4 linked regions of the Homo sapiens genome follow. The protein of the gene in region 1 purifies or fractionates together with the protein of each later gene. This does not show direct contact. Each region holds a gene or a part of one and is shown on either strand. Other genes may lie near its edges.

Region 1 (4,935 bases):
ACTTCAGTCTGGACCTCTAGGAGGTGATCCTCCCACCTCAGCCTCCCAAAAGTAGCTGGGACCACAAGCATGCGCCACCATGCCCAGCTAATTTTTGTATTTTTCTGTAGAGATAGGGATTTGCTATGTTGCCCAAGCTGGTCTCAAACTCCTGGGCTCAAGTGATCCACCTGCCTCAGCCTCCCAAAGTGCAGAGATTACAGGTGTGAGCCATCTCACCTGGCCACAATTTTTTTTTTTTTAATTCACAACAATGCTATTGTGCAGTGTTTGAAAAGTGTTGGTCCAGAAAAGTTTTTCATATTTTGGTCCATGATGGTAAACTTCAGCAGGAGGTATTCCAACTTCCCATCCTCCCTTCAAGCAGAGTAATCCCATTTGTATAAAGTATTCCATGGTCAGAAAAAAAGCAAAAAAGAAAACATTTTCCACTATTCAACAAAATAAAAAGCATACATAGAGATTTTATTTGAACAAGGATCATAAAATAGGTTTAGAAGAAGTATTAGTTAAAATCTGTTAGACAGATTTTTAGTTATAACCTTTCTTGAGAAGCTTTGTAGTAAGAAGGAATAAGATTCATGAAAACATTAAATTTTGAAATAATTTGTTATTTATAAAACTGAATGTTGTTATACCATTTTTATTCTTTAAAATTATTACAATTATAAAACTCATTTTCTTCCCATTTTTCCTAAGGGATAATGGGATTACAGTGGGCAAAACATCTTGGAAATGCAGTCAAAGTTACAATCAATGACTTGAATGAAAATTCTGTGACACTGATTCAGGAAAACTGCCATTTAAACAAATTGAAAGTGGTGGTGGACAGTAAGGAAAAGGAAAAGAGTGATGATATTCTTGAAGAAGGAGAGAAAAATCTTGGTAATATTAAGGTGACCAAAATGGATGCCAATGTACTGATGCATTTGAGATCTTTTGATTTCATGTAAGTAGAAAAGACTTGCCGTGTCACTTTCTAAACTTATCTGAAATTTTGGGGACGAGGAGTAGTTAAAAATTAAGACAGTTTTTTGTTGTTTATTTATTTAAATTAATGCCATTTTTTGACATTGGCCTAAGGTATGCAGTATGAAAATTTTCTAGTATTTGAAATAAAATGCCTGGGCATGTGACTTTTCCTCTAACCCGAATTTATTTTTACATGTCTGATACATCATACTATCATTTTATTACTTAATTTCAAAACAGAATTATGTACTTAAAATATATTTGCAATGTATTTTTAAATCCATGGAATTTTATAATTAGAAATAATTACAGTGGTATAATTTTTGTTACTAATATGACTTTAAAATGTCTATATTCTTTCTGATTTTAGACATCTAGACCCTTTTGGAACATCAGTGAATTATCTAGATTCTGCATTCAGAAATATAAGAAACCTTGGCATAGTGTCAGTGACTTCTACAGATATCAGTTCTTTATATGCCAAGGCACAGCATGTTGCCCGGCGTCACTACGGATGTAACATTGTCCGAACTGAATATTACAAGGAACTAGCAGCCAGAATTGTTGTAGCTGCAGTGGCAAGGTACCAAATTGCCAACAGTGTACTTAGTGTGTTTCAGTATTTGATAAAAAGAGATAATATTACAAGAAGTACTTACCTTATTCAAAATATGCACAAAATATAAATTCTGTATTCCTTATCTGTAATACTGGTTTTTAATCTTACGTGGTATCTGTTGTAATTTTATTTAAAAGTTTATACCTGAAATATTCAGTTTACTCTCCAATTAAAATGTTACTGAAATAAAGTATAAGAAAGAAAAGGTAAAAGTGAAAGTTAATTTCCAGTTTATTTCAACAATGTAGGATAAAGGATAGCTATATGAAAGGAAAAGCAAAAACTGTTTTGTTTTGTTTTTTCACCATGTTGCCCAGGATGAAACAAGACTCCTGGCCAACATGGTGAAACCCCGTCTCTACTAAAAATACAAAAATTAGCTGGGCATGTTGGTACACACCTGTAATCACAGCTACGATTATAGGTTGAGGCACTAGAATCACTTGAACCCAGGAGCCACATGCTGCAGTGAGCCAAGGTTGCTCCACTGCACTCCAGCCTGGGCAACATAGTGAGACTCTGCCTCAGAAAGAAACAGTCATTTCTTTTATATCCATTCTGTTTTATCTTCTTTATTTATATAGTTTGAATAAAATGATGGCTTACAAACTTGATTCTGCAAAATGGTCTTACAAAATGGGAAGTTCTCTCCATTTCTCACCAGGATTTCCAAACAGAATTTGAAAACAGTTATTTTTTAAAAGGATGACTTTTTTTGAGCACTTACTATATGCAGATTATGCTAGAATAATATAATATAAACGGATATTGTGAATATAGATAATGGATAATCAGCCAGCTCACTTGCCAGCCCCAATACTAGTTTCAGAGCATTTAAGTAGAAATTTCTACCTCAGGATAAATACAGATTATTAGACTTCATAGACCTTCAGGGTTGTTTCTAATTACCTGAAAACTGATGTTTACTGTATGCATGCTAAGGACTTAACTGCACATACTTAAAAATGTCTATAATGTAATATCAGCAAATTCAGAGTAATATATATAAATTAAATGTAGTATATGACTGCAGAGTACATAAATGGTATATAGTAGAGCTTAATCCAAAAAGTCTGTGAAATTAATGGTGGAAAGGACTTTGACTGTTCTTTTTTCACTCAATTTTCAGTAGCTAGCATACTATCCTGCATATAGTCATTACTCAATAAATAGATACTGTTTGAAAGAAGCTTTTATAGGAAATAAAATAGATAAAAAGGAAGCAATGTGGTGGTGATGATAAGAAACAAAGTGAAAATGACTGAAAACCAGAAAATATTGCCCTATTGAGAGGATATCGCAAGGGAAAATGTCTAGAAACTGAAGACCCTCCCAAGCATCTTTTATTTCCTGTGTTTCAATTTCTGTAAAAGTTACAGTAATGATCTTTTAAAAGCACTGCTACTGAGAATTGAATTTTTCTTGATGTCCCATAACTTATCCATAGTATACTGTCCAGGTTAATATTGTCAGTATAATGCCAAACAAGGGAAAATGATAAGCCCACAAAATAACTTGAAAAAATTTATTGTAGAGCTGCAGCCCGATGCAACAAAGGCATAGAAGTACTGTTTGCAGTGGCTCTGGAACATTTTGTGTTGGTAGTTGTGAGAGTTTTGAGGGGACCTACTTCAGCAGATGAAACAGCCAAGAAGATTCAATACCTGATCCATTGTCAGTGGTGTGAAGAGAGAATTTTTCAGAAGGATGGTAATATGGTAGAAGGTAAATTCAAGTTATATATTATGTTTATCTATAATCCTCCACTGAATAAGCCTTTATCACATACCTAATTATACATATTGTTGTCCTTTGATTTTAAAGATTACAGTGCTAACTTTGTTATTTCCTATACTGGATTTCCTTTCGTCAACAGACAAGACATTCGTGTGAGTTTATTAAAGTTATTTACTCATGCTGTACAATATATGCTTTCTAGCTCTGCCTTCTATCGAAACATCTAGAAATAACTTAGTTTCCACTCTCAACTAATTTTAGGAACATAAGTCAGATTACGTTTTTTCCAGGCTGTTACAAATCATTAATTTTATAAAAATAATTTTCATGTTTCTGGCTGTGTATAAAAGCCATCAGTTATAAAATGCATTCAATAAACATTTATTGAGCCTCTACTATATGCCAGGCCTGGGGATGGGAAACAAGGAAAAAGCTGTAGTTTATGCCTTCATAAAGCTCTTTCTGTTTGTTTCAGTTCTGGGACATGGAAACAGTTGCTTATTGTTTTCTGTTAGGTTCTTGGTATTTTATGAATTTTTGAGTTTAGCACTTACTATGTTAAGTTGCAGATTTTTTTCTCATTTTGTCACTTTTTTTTTAATCTGTGTTGCAGAAGTTTTTTGTTGCTAATTGAATGTTTATGTAGTCTGGATTTTGCCTGTAGTTAGAAAGAGCTTTCCTATTCCTGGATTATTCAAAGTAGATTAGGTTGTATTGAATAGTACACCTTTCCTCCACTGATTTGAGAATACCTTCTTTATCTTATACTAAATTTCCACATGTATTTGAGTTTGCTTCTAGATTTTCTGTTCTGTTCCAGTGGTTGGATATTTCTTCATACACGTCTATCATACTGTTTTGACTATAGAGGCTTTTCAGTGTCATTTAATATCTGTGATGGCAATCCCTACTCAAAGCTCTTTGTTTTCAGTGTTCCTGTATTGCTCTTTTGTTAATCCCTTAATATAAAAGTAAATAATAACCCAGTTGGCATATTATTTTGATGACATTAAATTGGGGAGAATAGATACTGTGATTTTTGAAGCTTCCTACAAATATGATATGCTTTTCATTTGTGCAAGTACTTTAGTATAATGTTAACTGGTGGTGGTAATGGAGGAAATTCTGTCATGTTCCTTACTTTTAGTTTCCTCTAGCGCTTTCTATTTTTTTATTTTTTTTCAGATGGAGTCTTGCTCTGTCTTCTATCCAGGCTGGAGTTCAGTGGCACAATCTTGGCCCACTCAACCTCTGCTTCCTGGGCTCAAGCAATTCTCCTGCCTCAGCCTCCCAAGTACCTGGGACTATAGGCACACACCACCATGCCCGGCTACTTTTTGTATTTTTAGTAGAGACGGGGTTTCACCATGTTTGCTGGCTAGTCTGAAACTCCTGACCTGTAGTAATCTGCCCGCCGCATCCTCCCAAAGTGCTGGGATTACAGGCATGAGCCTCTGCACCCAGCCTCTAGTGCTTTCTGATTCAAGCATAATACTGGCTTTTCATCTACAATACATATCATTTATCACATTAAGGAAGAATACTTCATTTTTATTGTATTTTATCAAGATGTTGAATTTTGTCATAATGCATTTTCAGCATCTGTG
Region 2 (4,935 bases), on another chromosome or scaffold:
TGAGTGAGGCTTTCATGAAAATTGCTCTTGATGGGTTCTGAGAATGGATTGGTAGCTGAATAGGACTGGAGAATATTTTTCAGACTGGTAGGATATTTTACATGCTTGCCAGGGTTATTTTTCGGAGTAAGGAGAAATGGACTCATTTATTCAGCAGAGATCACGTGCCCCCTATTTACAAGGAATTGTGCTAGGTGCAAAGTCTATTGCTATTGTAGTGTTTTGCTGAAGCAAGTTTTCTTTGTTTTAAATTAGTGTACGTCTTTTTTTTTTTTTTTTTAACTTTATCTAGCATCCAGCACAGAATAATCCAATAAATGTGTAGGGCGCCTTTGAAAAACTGCACTATTAATGTTAAAATGTAGAAAATGTTTAATAAAGGTACAAGATTAATTTAAAAGGGTGATAGAACCCTAATAAAACATTTAGGTAGGTGTTGTAACCAAGATGTATTTTTACTCTAGGATAAGTTTGGCTCTTTTGATCAAAATTCCTGTGAATATATTTCTACTTGCCATTATAAAGATGCAGAGGGCTCTGTCCTTTGAATTTTTTCCCTTTGGTGCTTGAATGATATTTAAGCACCCAGCATTCTGAAGTTGCTGTTTTGAAGTAATTTCATGCACTTTCCCAATTACTCCTGCTCCATCTCTCCCAATGTTGTCTTAAATCTTTGCACTCAAATTCAAGCACATCCTACTCCTCCTGTTCTGAGTGACATATGGGCAACACTTTAAAAAAGAAAAGCTCTCTAGAAAATCTAGAGAGGTACGAGCGATGGCCCTTCTCCCATATTAGGAGTTAGATTTTTAGTATTCATCAATAAATACTGATGAGAAGAAACTGCTCTACTTTTACCAACATTCTTCAGGAAATTTATTAAGATTTTTATTAGCCACAGTATCTTTGTCAGCTTGGAAACATATATGTTTGTGAATCACATTTATTTAGTCTTTAGGTAAGTATATGGATTTTGATGATTCTTTGCAGTTACTCCTATCTCTCTATGGGTTTCTTGCCCATAGGATGGGAACCAGTACTCTAGGATTTGAAAATTAAGGTAGATACTGTTCACACTGGCAAATATTTAAGATGAATATTAAACGTGTATACTAAAATGTTTATTGGTAAGTAATTCATTAAATGGGAAGATATACTAGATGAAGTAAATAATTAAATTGCAAGCACAAGCAAATTAAATTTGAGATTTGGGAATGGTCTGTCATATACTTTTAAAGCAAATATCATACTGATAATGGAAGGACACGTGTCTTGTGGAGCTCAGTATCAGGAACAATATAGTTGGTCCTGCAGGGGACTAAACATGAGAACTGAAAGTCATTAGGAACACGAGCAGCCTCATTCCACTGTTCCAGGGACCTTATAATTTCTTTCTGTGTATTTATTTTATTTTCTTTTTGAGGACCGTCTGTCTGGCTGTTTGTATGTCGGCAGATATGTCTGCTCTAGACTTAGATACTTGCTTTAAGAATCCAAAAGAGATTGCATTATCTAATTGTCATTTATATCTAAAATTAAACAAACCATGAAGTTAGACATAGCTAAGATAACCACAGCTTTATTTCAGGTTAATTGCTTTTCTTAGATTGTTTTTATCAAGTGACAGCTAAAGAAAAGTCATCATTTGATGACACTAAGTATTAGTGCATTGTGATTGCGTTTCACAATATTAAGTGTTAGAAAGAACTATTAGACCTTAAGTATTTATAGAATGTGTCTGGAAGACACAGGGAGAGAAACTGTTAATGTTTCTACTGTAGTCTTTAGAGTTGCTTTTTTCACATCTTATTGCAGTTTACTATGTAATTTGGCAACAGCTATCAACATAGAGATTATATGTAATTACAGTGTACCCTTGAACAACTCAGGGGTTGGGAGTGCTGACCCCCATGCAGTTGAAAATCCATGTATAAGCTTTGACTCCTCAAAAGCTTAACCACTCATAGCCTGTTGACCAGAAGCCCTACCAATAGCATAAACAATTAACACATATTTGTATATGTACTATATGCTATATTCTTACAATACAATAAGCTAGAGAAAAGAAAATATTATTAAGAAAACCCTAAGAAAGAGCAAATATATTTATTGTTCATGAAGCGGAAGTGGGCCATCTTAAAGGTCTTCATCCTCATTGTCTTGGTGTTGAGTAGGCTCAGGAGGAGGAACAAGAGGAGAGGTTGGTCTTGCTGTCTTGGAGTGGCAGAGGCAGAAGAAAATCTGTGTATAAGTGGACCTGCACAGTTCACACTCATGTTGTTCAAGGGTCAGCTGTATGCATTTTTTTCTTAGAGGTAATCTGTTATTTGGGAATCAGGAAAAAAGTTTTAAAATTCATTTTTTAAAAATAAGTTCAGGTTATAACATTTAAGAAGTTTAATCTTGTTTTTTCAGACTTGCAGAAAATACTTTAGAAATGCTGACTCTAAAATTTATCTTTCATATGTTGCTGGTAGGAATGTAAAATGATATAACCACTCTGGAAATTAGTTTGGCAATTTCTCGAAAAGTTAAACGTACATTTGACACACAATCCAGCGATTGCACTCCTGAGCCTTTATCCTAGAGAAATAAAAACGTTCACAAAAAAACCTGTACATGAATGCTCGTAGAAGCCTTGTTTATAATAGCTAAAAACCAGAAACAACTCACATGTCCTTCAGTGGGTGAATGGTTAAATAAAATGTGATAGTCTTGCGGTAGAACACCACCATCAAAAAAAGAAACAAACTGTTGGTTCATGCAGCAACTTGGTTGGAGTTTAAGGGCATTGTATTGAGTGAAAAAAGCCAGTCTCAGAGATTGTATGATTCCATTTATATAGGATTCTCAAAATGACAAAATTATAGAAATGCAGAACAGACCGGTTTTGCTGGGGTTAGGGCTGACTTTCTTTGAGATGATAGAACAGTTCAGTGTCTTGTTTATGGTGATGGTTACATGAATCTGTACACATGACACAATGTCCTAGAATTAGACACACAAAAGAATGTAAAAGCTGACATTTCAATAAGTAGTTCAGTGATGAATATTGTATTAGTGTCACTTTCCTGCTTTTGATAATTGCACAGTGCTTGTCCATTTTATGGCTGTATCACATTTAACCATTTACCCATGGAAGGCCATGTGGGTTGTTTCTGGTTTTTGGTGATTGCAGGTAAAGCTGCTATGAACATTAATGTACAGGTTCTTTTGTGACTGTAAGTTTTAATTGTTCTAGAATAAATATCTAGAAATTCAACTGCTGGGTCATATAGTGATAAAACCTTGAGCCCTCTTATTCTGTCCCAGGTGGGGTGTAAATCATCCCTTTGTCCAGCATATCCACACTGTATACACTACCCACCAGCTAGTTAGTCACTCTTGGTTATCAGATTGACTGTCTGGTGTCTTGGTGCTTGTGTTTGAGAATCCCTTATTGTACTTAGTAGTGACCCCAAGTGCAAGACTAGTGATGCTGGCATTTTTTTTTTTTTTTTTTTTGAGGCAGGTCTCTTATCTTGTCCCCCAGGCTGGAGTGCAATGGTGTGATCTCAGCTCACTGCAACCTCCGCCTCCCAGGGTCAAGCGATTCTCTTGCCTCAGCCTCCCTAGTAGCTGGGTCACAGGCGCCTGCTGCCACGCACCGCAAATTTTTGCATTTTAAGTAGAGACAGGGTTTCACCATTTTGGCCAGGCTGGTCTCGAACTCCTGACTTCAGGTGATCCGCCTGCCTCTGCCTCCCAAAGTGCTGGGACTGCAGGGAGTGAGCCACCGCATCTGGCCGCTGACATATTGTTATAATTACTCTTAGTATTGTTGTTAATCTCTTAACTGGCTCCAATTTATAAATTAAGCTTCATCATAAGTATGTCTATCTAATGTATGTATAGGAAAAAACGTATTTATGTAGGGTTCGATACTCTCCATACTCTCCACCATTTAAGGTATCCACTGAGGGCTTTGGAATGTATCCCTCACAGATGAAGGGGGTGCTGCTGTGTTTGAGAGATACAGTTTCTCCACAACCTCACTACCATTTGGTATTGGTGATATTTTTTGTGCGTACTGGTATCTTGTCATGGCTTTAATTTGCATCCTAATGGCTGATGATTTCATGTGCTTATTTGCCATTCATATTTTTTTTGGTGATTTGTCTGTTCAAGTCTTTTACCCGTTTTGTGATTGGTTTGTTTTCTTACTGATTTTAGAGCATTCTTTATATGTTGTGTATACAAAATCCTTTGCCAAATATATGATTTGTAAATATATTCTCTCAGTCTCTGGCTTGTCTTTTCATTCTCTTAACAGTGTCTTTAGCAGCAAAAAAGTTTCAAATTTTGTTAAAGTCCAACTTCTCAATATATGGATCGTGTTTTTAGTGCCTATCTTAGAACTCTCTGCCTAACTCTAGGTCAGGAGGTTGTTCTCATTTTTTCTTCTGTTTTACCCTTATATGTCTTACATTTAGATCCGTGATCCTTTTTGGTTTCATTTTTGCACAGGATGTGAGCTTTAGATCTTGGTACATTTTTCTTTTCCTTTTGTCCATGGATGTCCAGTTGTTCCAAAACCATTTGTTGAAAAGTCTACCCTTTCTCCATTCAATAAGTTTTAAAAATCAAAAATCAGTTGGCCATATACTGTAAATTAGGTATCAAAACAAAGACAGGAAGAAATGAATGAGCAATTAACTATTAATAAATACAGGTTTATTGAAGGTATAACATGGCTGGAGTCTGGAAAAAGTGGGAAAACATTTTAGAGAATAACATGGGCAAAGATCTGTTCTAGAGAAAATAAGTAAGAACTGGCTATTTTTGGGAGTCATGCAAGTGAAGGGAAGTAGAGAAGTAAAGGAAGGATCATTGGTTCGTGAAAAAGAAAGAGTATATAAACTTCTGGCTAGATTGAAGCATTTGTAATCAGTTTCA
Region 3 (4,326 bases), on another chromosome or scaffold:
GCTTCAGTCCTGAAGGGGTCTGCACAGCACCCCCAGCTCACATCCCTGCAGTGATCTCCAAGCAAAGGACATATCGTCCTCACACTTGGGCTTATTATATGACTCACCTACTTCCTGTCTAGGCTTTCTCTGGATCTGGCAATAGACTGGATGGAAAGAAGAAAGGGGTAGAGCCCAGCCCCTCCCCAATCAAGCCTGGAGATATTAAAAGGTAGGTCTGTCCTGGCTCTCCTCCAGGACAGGAGGAGGATCTGTGCCAGCCCGCTGGGGTCGGGCAGCCTCACCCCAGTTCTGGAGACAAAGCCTGGGTCAGTAGTCTCCCAAGGGACTAAAACCCTTAGCTGCTCTCCTTGGTGGGGTGGAGCACAACATGCCCCTCCTTCCACAGTGCCACCCCCAGTACCACTGTGGTCCAGCCTCTCTCCATACCTCTCCATACCCCCAATTCAGCCTCTTCTTGCCCCCACTGGCTTTCCTAAGATGCGAGTCTGATTAGATCTGTCTCTTACTCAAAACCTTTCTGGTCCCTATTTGGTGATCTGCCTATTTTCCTGTTTTGTGACTTGGAATTATTAATCAGGTCACATTATCTCAGTTCCCCTGAAAGTTCCCTGAGGAGCTACCTCAGATGTGCTTCTGTTGCTGGGTCCGGGGACCCACAGCAGACCCTTCCTCTGGTGGCCATGATGGCAGGGGCAGGGCTGAGGTGTGTCAGTTGTCTGTTGTGTGTGTGAAATCAGAATACTGGAGTGAGAGTCTAGCCACCTCAGGGGGTTCTGTGAAGCTCAGGACAGTGACAGTGAGGGCTTCCCAATCCTTCAGATGACCCCTCTCCATAGACAGGTACAGAGCCTAAAGCCCCTGGCCCTATACCCAATATTGATACCAAACCAAGAAGTCAGTTACTTTCTGCTTCCCTCCTGGGAGGATGCCAGGAAGCACCAAAGGGCCCAGGTGGGGTGCAGCAGCATCTTTTCTGCGTTCCTCTTGACTGTCAAAAATGAATTTTAGTCCTTTTTTCCTGGAAATAACATTTCTCTGTCTCTGTCTCTTCTTACAGAGGAATTCCCAATTATGAATTTAAACTTGGTAAGATAACTTTCATCAGAAATTCACGTCCCCTTGTCAAAAAGGTTGAAGAGGTGAGTGTATTTCCTTGTATTTCCTTGGTTGGTAATGAGGAGATTTATTTGCTAGTGATGACTGAAGTTCTTGGCATTCTGAGTAGGGGTGTGCATTAGTCTGTTTCCAAGCTGCTGGTAAAGATGTACCCGAGACTGGGCAATTTACAAAAGAAAGAGGTTTAATGGACTTACAGTTCACATGGCTGGGGAGGCCTCACAATCATGGCAGGGGGCAAGTCACATCTTACATGGATGGTAGCAGGCAGAGAAAAAGCTGGTGCAGGGAAACACCTACTTATAAAACCATCAGATCTCATGAGACTTATTCACTATCATGATAACAGCACGGAAAAGACCCGCCCTCATGACTCAGTTACCTCCCACCGACTCAGTTACCTCCCACCTGGTCCCTCCCACAACACGTGGTAATTCAAGATGAGATTTGGGTGGGGACGCAGCCAAACCACATGAGGGTGTCTGTCATGTTTTCCCTTTCCTAGGGTCCCTCTGCTCCCTGGTGTCCTGTTTTTTTCTGTAGAGCTGGTGTAGGGTGTATGAAACAGAAGACTTGCAGCATGGGGGTCAGGAGCTCTGTCTTGCTCTAGAGCCGACTCCAGGCTCTGTTATCACAGAACTGTGTGCCCTGGGTGGGCTTCGTCTTCCAACAGAGACCTTGAACTTCAAATATAGGCAGCACCTTCTAGCTGAGCAGGGTGGTGGCGGGACAGAGGAAGGCAAGGGCTGAGCATCCTGTAGACATGGGCACTTTGTGGGAATATGGCCAGGCCTGGCAGCAACTGGAACGCAGTCACCTCTTTGTGATGAGGATTTCTACAACACCAGCGCTTCAGACCCATCGCTCTCCTGGTTCCTTTTCTCAAAGGATTGGACCCTTGAGGATCCAGGATCAGGGCAGAGGGCAGATGTACTGAGCCACCCATTCAGGACCAGCTGCTACATGGGAGCCATCCCAATTACTGAACTCTTTTCTCTAGCACTTGGGGTGGTTGGGGACAGAGACCACTGTGAAGTTTGCACACCTGGTCCTACTCACAACCACTTCTGGGCTCAATGTTCAAGTTGAAACAGCATTGGGCATTGGGACCTTTCAGGCTCAGAGGAGCAAACATAGTGGCCAGTCAGACCTCACCCTCCAGCTCCTCCTTCAGGCACCATCCAGGCTTCACCAGCTACAGGCTGCCTTTCTCACTAAAAGCCAGTGCCTGACTCCGACCTAAGACCTTAGCATGGGACGTCCCCCAGGCTGACTGTGACCTGACTGTTGCAAATTTACAGAAGGCAGGGGAGGCCAGTGGGCACAGCAGGCCTGTTTGACCATAAATATGTATTTAAGAAGTATATGTTTAAAGATGGGATTGAAGACATATTTAGCTCTATTCCATCCTGCAGCCCCACTAAGGCTGTGGCTAAAGGTCATGAGGTAAGAAAGACAGTGGAAGAGGAGGCAACTACAAGGCTTTGGAAGCCCCAGGTACCTTAGTAGACCATAGAAAGCCTAGAAGCAGTTCTGTGTAGATTGTGGAATTCTCAAAAGGCACCTCTAGAAATGAGGGACTAAAGACAGAATTCTGTTACTAAGCAGTTAGAGCTGCATTACCCTCCCTCCCCCATCCCAGAAGGCTGGAGGCTCGACTCCAGTAGGTCTCTAGACTACTATCTCTGAAGTGAAGGCCACAGTCAGAAAGCTTTCCATTCCAGCATCTAAATAATAGAGGATTTGTGGGAAGAACAGCCACAGAAACCAAAGGAGCAGAAATCATCAGGGAAATAGTTTCCCCAAAGATGGGCACAATTTTGCAGATTTGAAGGGCTCACTGAGTTCCAGCAAAATGAATGAAAATAGCCCCACTTTGAGGCAAAGAAAGATCCTAAAGCTTCTAGAGAGAGAACAGAGGTATCACCATGCATTAAGGACATCATCAGCCAAGCGCCATGGCTCACACCTGTAATCCCAACACTTTGGGAGGCTGATGCGGGAAGATCATCTGAGCCCAGGAGTTTGAGACCAGCCTGGGCAATATAGGGAGACCCTGTCTCTACAGAAAATTTTAAAAATTAGCCAAGCATGGTGGCACGCACCTATAGTCCCAGCTACTTTAATGCTGAGTTGGGAGCATCACTTGAGCCTGGGAGGTGGAGGCTGCTGTGAGCTGAGATCACACCACTGCACTCCAGCCTGGGTAACAGTAAGTCCCTGTCTCCCAAAAAAAGGGACATCATCTTAGCAGGACACAGAGGAAACTAGAAGATAGTGGAGCAATATACTCAAAATTCTGAGGGGAAATTTTTTCCAACCTAAAATTCTGTACCAACTCTTATGAGCTGGATTGTGTCCCTCCAGTGTTTCTGTGTTGAAGCCCTAACCCCCAGTAACTCAGATAGGGCCATTTAAAGAAGCAATTAAGTTAAAATAAGACCATTAGAGTTGGCCATAATTCAATCTGGTGTCCTTTTAAGAAGAGGAAATTTGGACATAGGAAGGGCCATGTGAGGACACAGCAAGAAGGCAGCCATCTGCAAGCCAAGGAAAAGGGTGTCAGAGGAAACCAAACCTGCTGACACCTTGATCCTGCACTTCTAGCCTCCAAAACTATGAAGAATAAATTTCTGTTGTTTGAGCCACCCTATCTTTGGCATTTTATATGGCAGCCCTAGCAGACTAACATACCAACCAGCCTATCAATGAAATATGAGATTAGAAAAAAGGAACTCACAAGAAGATAATCCTCATGCATCTTTTCTCAGGAAGCTCCTAGGAGGTGTTCCTCACTAAAATGAAGGAATAAGGTAGAAATAAGAAAGTCATAGAATCCAGGAAATAAGGAGCCCCCACTAACATGTACGGCACCTAGAGAAAGGCCAGTCCAGGTACGGCAGGGCGAAGGCCCAGGAGACACAGGTTTGTCAAAACAGATGAACTCCATGCAATGCAGGCTGTGATTGAATAGAGGAAGAAGCCAAACACAGCTATTGACACCAGGATGAATGGAAGGCTGTGCGGCAAAGGAAGACTAAATGCAGCTGTGACTCAAATTTACATGAATGTGACCACATAAATACTAAACAGTGCTCTATTGCAGGTATAACATGCTACAGTTAGTGGGGAGCCAGGTGCAGGGATGTGTGTTGAACATTCCAGAATCCTCTTCTTCCTAGGGAAAAGTTGAGATAATGCCTCAGA
Region 4 (4,689 bases), on another chromosome or scaffold:
TTTCACCACGTTGGTCAGGCTGGTCTTGAACTTCTGGCTTCAGGTGATCTGCCCGCCTCAGCCTCCCAAAGTGCTGGGATTACAGGGGTGAGCCACCACACCCAGCCTAAGCTCATGTACTTTAGCTCATGCTCATCCTCTTTTAGTTCCAGACACAGTTTTAGCAAACTTGGATACCATTTCCTGGCTCAGAGCAGTGACTAAGCTGTAAATCAGAGGGCTAGGGGTTGAGGAATAAGTGCCCAAGAAGTGACAGATGGCAAGACAACCCTTAAAAGCAGAGCCTTCTCAGGCACAATACCCTTTACTCCTTTGTAACTGCTAAACGCCATAACAAAAGACAGTCACTGATATTTATAATTATTGAATCACAGATTTTTAGACATGGCAGCATCAAAAAAGGCAAAATCATTATTTCATATTTTCTGCTTCAGGAAGCAGGTAGTGTGTGATACATTTTAAAAGACTTATCTTGGGTATTCCTCAGAGCAGAGCCTGAGACAAGGATTTAGGTACAGGTATGGTTTTTTGGAGGTGACCACAAGAAGCAGGAGGGTGAGTGGGAAGAATGAAACAGAGCAGGAAGAAAGCCATTAAGGATATATTAACATTATTGAAGTTGACTTGAGGGCAAAGGGGGCTGAACTCCACTAGCACCTCCTAAGAAGCCTGCAGAACAGCATCCAGAATTGTCCTGTGGATCTGCCGGCTCCTGCCTTGCCTCGGTTGCAGGTTGCCCCTGGGTGCTGTGCCTGCGTGGCTGAGTAGGCTCTTGCTTCAGTGTTAGAGAAAGCCTTGGTGCAGAAAGATGGACAGTGTGTGCTGGGCCAGGGGGTCTGCTACCCACAAGGTGGGCATGCATTTTTGCTGCACTGTCCCCACAGCTGTGTTTGAAATCACAGTGACCCAAGCAGATGGGTCACAGGGCATCAGAGGATCTGCTAAAAACATTTCCATCCAAAATGCTGCCAGAGAATGCTTTGATGCCTAGTGGGCTTCAGCTGTCTAAAGAAGTATCTATAGACCCTCACATGCCAAAGCTCTGCTAAATAGATGAGGCGTTGTGATATCATAGTTTTCTGTTTCAGGTAAAGCACCCTCAGTGATTTCTATCCCTCGCTGTAGGAATCGGTGGTGGAATTATCCATCAGCATGAATTGATCCACGGAAGCTCCTTCTGTGCTGCAGAACTGGGCCACCTTGTTGTGTCTCTGGATGGGCCTGATTGTTCCTGTGGAAGCCATGGGTGCATTGAAGCATACGCCTCTGGAATGGCCTTGCAGAGGGAGGCAAAAAAGCTCCATGATGGTTGGTGTCCCTCTCTCGAGGAATTAAGTAACCAAATAGTAGACAAGTACTTCAAAGTGGAAATTCCAAAGACAGCTGAACACTGAAGCCAGAAGTTTCCCCCTTTTCACTTCTTAGGGAAAGAGCAGGGCTCCCTCGCACTAAAACTGCACAGTCTTCTTGGCTGACCCATATTGCCACTCTTCCTCCCCAGGGGTGGTGGTGGACAGAGGTCTAGAGTTCCAAGACAGCAGGGAAGATTTCCTTCAGTTTTGTTTTCTCAGCCAGTATCACAGGGAGGGTACTTAATACACATTTTAATGAAGAAATAAATGGACAAAACATGTTATGTATATATCACACATACATGCACTGTATGTGTAGTATATCTGTGCTTCATACATAAAAACAGTGTAGATTTTTGGCCCCCAAAACCAATTTGTGAGCATATGCTGAAGGAAAAGAGATGGGGAGTGGAGGCCGAGAGTGCAGGAGAGAAGTGTATAGAGCCCTACAGTAGGGTTCTGAAGAGGTGGGAAGAGATGAGCTGCAAAGCCAGGCAGAGGGTCCACGAGAGGGCATGGCGAGCCGAGATGATGGGTGTATGGGACAGGAAGCAAAAAGGTAGGGGATCACTGCCTGGTGGTGCCCCCTATGAGAGAGGTAAGAAGTATGCTCGTCTGTTGGCAGTGGGGGTAGAAGGACTGGGAAGGTGGTGAAGGTATAGAAAAGCGCAGTCAGAGAGAATGGGTGAGAGCTGTGAGGGCCCAGGGGAGACAGGAGACCACCAGTTGATGTCTAGGTTGCAGTTTGCACAGCTGGGGATTTTTCTCCTTCAGGGTCCAGATATTCTAGCAGATTAGTAGGAGGCAGATTGATCTGAGTTGGTGACGGGCAGAAGACAAGGACTACAGATAACCACAGAAATACCTGCTGCTTACTGAGCATTTACTGTGGCCAGCACTTAACTAAATACTTTATGTCCATGATCTCATTCCGTTCCTCAAATAACCCTGCCAGGGGAGGCACTACTGGTCTCATCTTCTAGGAAGGAGGAATGTGTACAGGTGAGGTGACAGGCATGGGGTCATGCAGCTGGGAGTGGCAGAGCTGGCACTGACCCCAGGCCTGTGTCTGTTCCTCAGCCACTGTGCCTCGCTGCCATAGAACGCGTGGCGCTGGCAGATGGCACAGCATTGTGTCTGGGATGAGTAAGGAAGGAGTGAATGTGGGAGGAGGGTGATAATTTGGAGAAAAGAACACTTCAAAGACTGTCTGCTACTGGAAGTGAGAAGTGAGGGAGCCAGAGGGGTAGGAGGCTGTCGTCAGACTTGAGGTTTTTCCAGGAAGATAGGTTCTGGGTTATGTACAACCAATTAGCAAGAGGGTAGCAAAGGCTTTAGGGGCAGTGTATAGAGATGTTTGTGAACGATAAGCTTTGCAATTGTGAAAAGAAAACACCGTCTTCCCATGTAGGGGCTTGCTTTCCACAGGCCCAGTGGTGAGCTTGGCCTCCCCACAGCTCATTAGTGACTGCTTTTCCTTCTCACTCTGTTCAGAGGACCTGCTCTTGGTGGAAGGGATGTCAGTGCCAAAAGATGAGGCTGTGGGTGCGCTCCATCTCATCCAAGCTGCGAAACTTGGCAATGCGAAGGCCCAGAGCATCCTAAGAACAGGTGAGCATGTGGCTGCAGGTGGCTGTGCTGCAGGGGGTGGCCTCAGATATCATATGGCCCAGCCCGGCCCCAGAAGAGACCCTGCTTCCCTAGGGACAGGTGCTTTGCAGTGTCTGTTCAGAGGTTTCTTTCCTAATTACTCAGAGGTAAAAAGGGAATTGGATTCAAGGTATTTGGCAGCATTGCCTTTTTCAGCAGGTGGTTGGTTTGGTTTGACAACTATAAAAATGCTCCTTTCATTTTACAGGAAATTTAGAGAAATATAGGACAGTTGTAAGAAAAAATATCACTTAGTTTTCCCATTTGGAGGTATCAACTATTAACATTTCCTTCGAGTCTTTCTATTCATTTTTTTGCCTAGTGGAGATCATGTGGTACACCCGGCTTTTTCCACTTGAGGCTGTCACATGATCATTTTCTCATATTAAGAATCAACCGTGAACTGCTTTTAAAACACTGCCTCCCACTGCATGCCGTGGATGTTCTTTAACATTTCTGCTGCTGGCTCTTTTCTGCCTTCCTCTTTGGTATTTTGATTTTGGCTTCTCTCAGAAACTCATTTTAATTTTTGTCTCCCTATAGCTGGAACAGCTTTGGGTCTTGGGGTTGTGAACATCCTCCATACCATGAATCCCTCCCTTGTGATCCTCTCCGGAGTCCTGGCCAGTCACTATATCCACATTGTCAAAGACGTCATTCGCCAGCAGGCCTTGTCCTCCGTGCAGGACGTGGATGTGGTGGTTTCGGATTTGGTTGACCCCGCCCTGCTGGGTGCTGCCAGCATGGTTCTGGACTACACAACACGCAGGATCTACTAGACCTCCAGGAACAGACATGGACCTTCTCTCCAGAGCTCCTGAGTGGAATCAAGTTCTTGTCTTTAGGATGACCGTTTCTTAACAATCAAATCTGGTATTGAACTGCAGGTGACTTTGGCAGAGAAATGTTTTCACTTTTGGTCTCCTCTTCCAGAGTCACCTTTCCCCACTCCTATTTTTGTAGATGCTATTCTTTCTGATGTCTTCTTACTAGGGGTCATTTTAGCTCAAACCCTGTAAGTTACAGTCACAATTTTCTGTGCCAAAGCAGCTACAATAATAGAGAGGAAGCCTTCTTAGAACTCTGCTTACTAATGTATTAATACCACTGAGACCTTCAGGCCTTGCCTGGGATATCACTTCATCCTGAAGTTTGCATTAATAATCCTTCCAGGCCGGGCACAGTGGCTCACGCCTGTAATCCCAGCACTTTGGGAGGCCGAGGCGGGCGGATCACGAGGTCAGGAGATCGAGACCGCCCTGGCTAACATGGTGAAACATGGTGAAACCCCGTCTCTACTAAAAATACAAAAAATTAGCTGGGTGTGGTGGCGGGTCCCAGCTACTCGGGAGGCTGAGGCAGGAGAATGGCATGAACCAGGGAGGCGGAGCTGGCAGTGAACTGAGACCGCACCACTGCACTCCAGCCTGGGTGACAGAGCAAGACTCCATCTCAAAAATAATAATAATAAATAATAATAATAATAATAATAATAATAATAATCCTTCCAGCTGGGCGCAGTGGCTCACGCCTGTAATCCCAACATTTTGGGAGGCCGAGATGGGCGGATCACCTGAGGTCAGGAGTTCAAGACCAGCCTGGCCAACATGGTGAAACCCCATCTCTACTAAAATACAAAAATTAGCCGGGCGTGGTGGCATGTGCCTGTAGTCCCAGCTACTCGGGA

What was found. Proteins that work in one complex are often made in the same cells at the same time.
Region 2: the proteins of TRMT1L (region 1) and VRK1 fractionate together in Homo sapiens (co-fractionation; one large-scale study listed by BioGRID). This does not show direct contact.
Region 3: the proteins of TRMT1L (region 1) and UFD1 fractionate together in Homo sapiens (co-fractionation; one large-scale study listed by BioGRID). This does not show direct contact.
Region 4: the proteins of TRMT1L (region 1) and GNE fractionate together in Homo sapiens (co-fractionation; one large-scale study listed by BioGRID). This does not show direct contact.

What each region holds. Positions count from the first base shown.
Region 1 is NC_000001.11:185,135,987-185,140,921, reverse strand, and holds part of TRMT1L (tRNA (guanine(27)-N(2))-dimethyltransferase), read left to right. Parts: intron 1-699; coding exon 700-949; intron 950-1,342; coding exon 1,343-1,555; intron 1,556-3,125; coding exon 3,126-3,316; intron 3,317-4,935. UniProt on the Homo sapiens protein: Specifically dimethylates a single guanine residue at position 27 of tRNA(Tyr) using S-adenosyl-L-methionine as donor of the methyl groups. Dimethylation at position 27 of tRNA(Tyr) is required for efficient translation of tyrosine codons.
Region 2 is NC_000014.9:96,799,685-96,804,619, forward strand, and holds part of VRK1 (serine/threonine-protein kinase VRK1), read left to right. Parts: intron 1-4,935. UniProt on the Homo sapiens protein: Serine/threonine kinase involved in the regulation of key cellular processes including the cell cycle, nuclear condensation, transcription regulation, and DNA damage response.
Region 3 is NC_000022.11:19,451,565-19,455,890, reverse strand, and holds part of UFD1 (ubiquitin recognition factor in ER-associated degradation protein 1), read left to right. Parts: intron 1-122; coding exon 123-211; intron 212-1,060; coding exon 1,061-1,142; intron 1,143-4,202; exon of another isoform or gene 4,203-4,297; intron 4,298-4,326. UniProt on the Homo sapiens protein: Essential component of the ubiquitin-dependent proteolytic pathway which degrades ubiquitin fusion proteins.
Region 4 is NC_000009.12:36,216,457-36,221,145, reverse strand, and holds part of GNE (bifunctional UDP-N-acetylglucosamine 2-epimerase/N-acetylmannosamine kinase), read left to right. Parts: intron 1-1,125; coding exon 1,126-1,308; intron 1,309-2,846; coding exon 2,847-2,963; intron 2,964-3,545; coding exon 3,546-3,781; 3' UTR 3,782-4,689. UniProt on the Homo sapiens protein: Bifunctional enzyme that possesses both UDP-N-acetylglucosamine 2-epimerase and N-acetylmannosamine kinase activities, and serves as the initiator of the biosynthetic pathway leading to the production of N-acetylneuraminic acid (NeuAc), a critical precursor in the synthesis of sialic acids.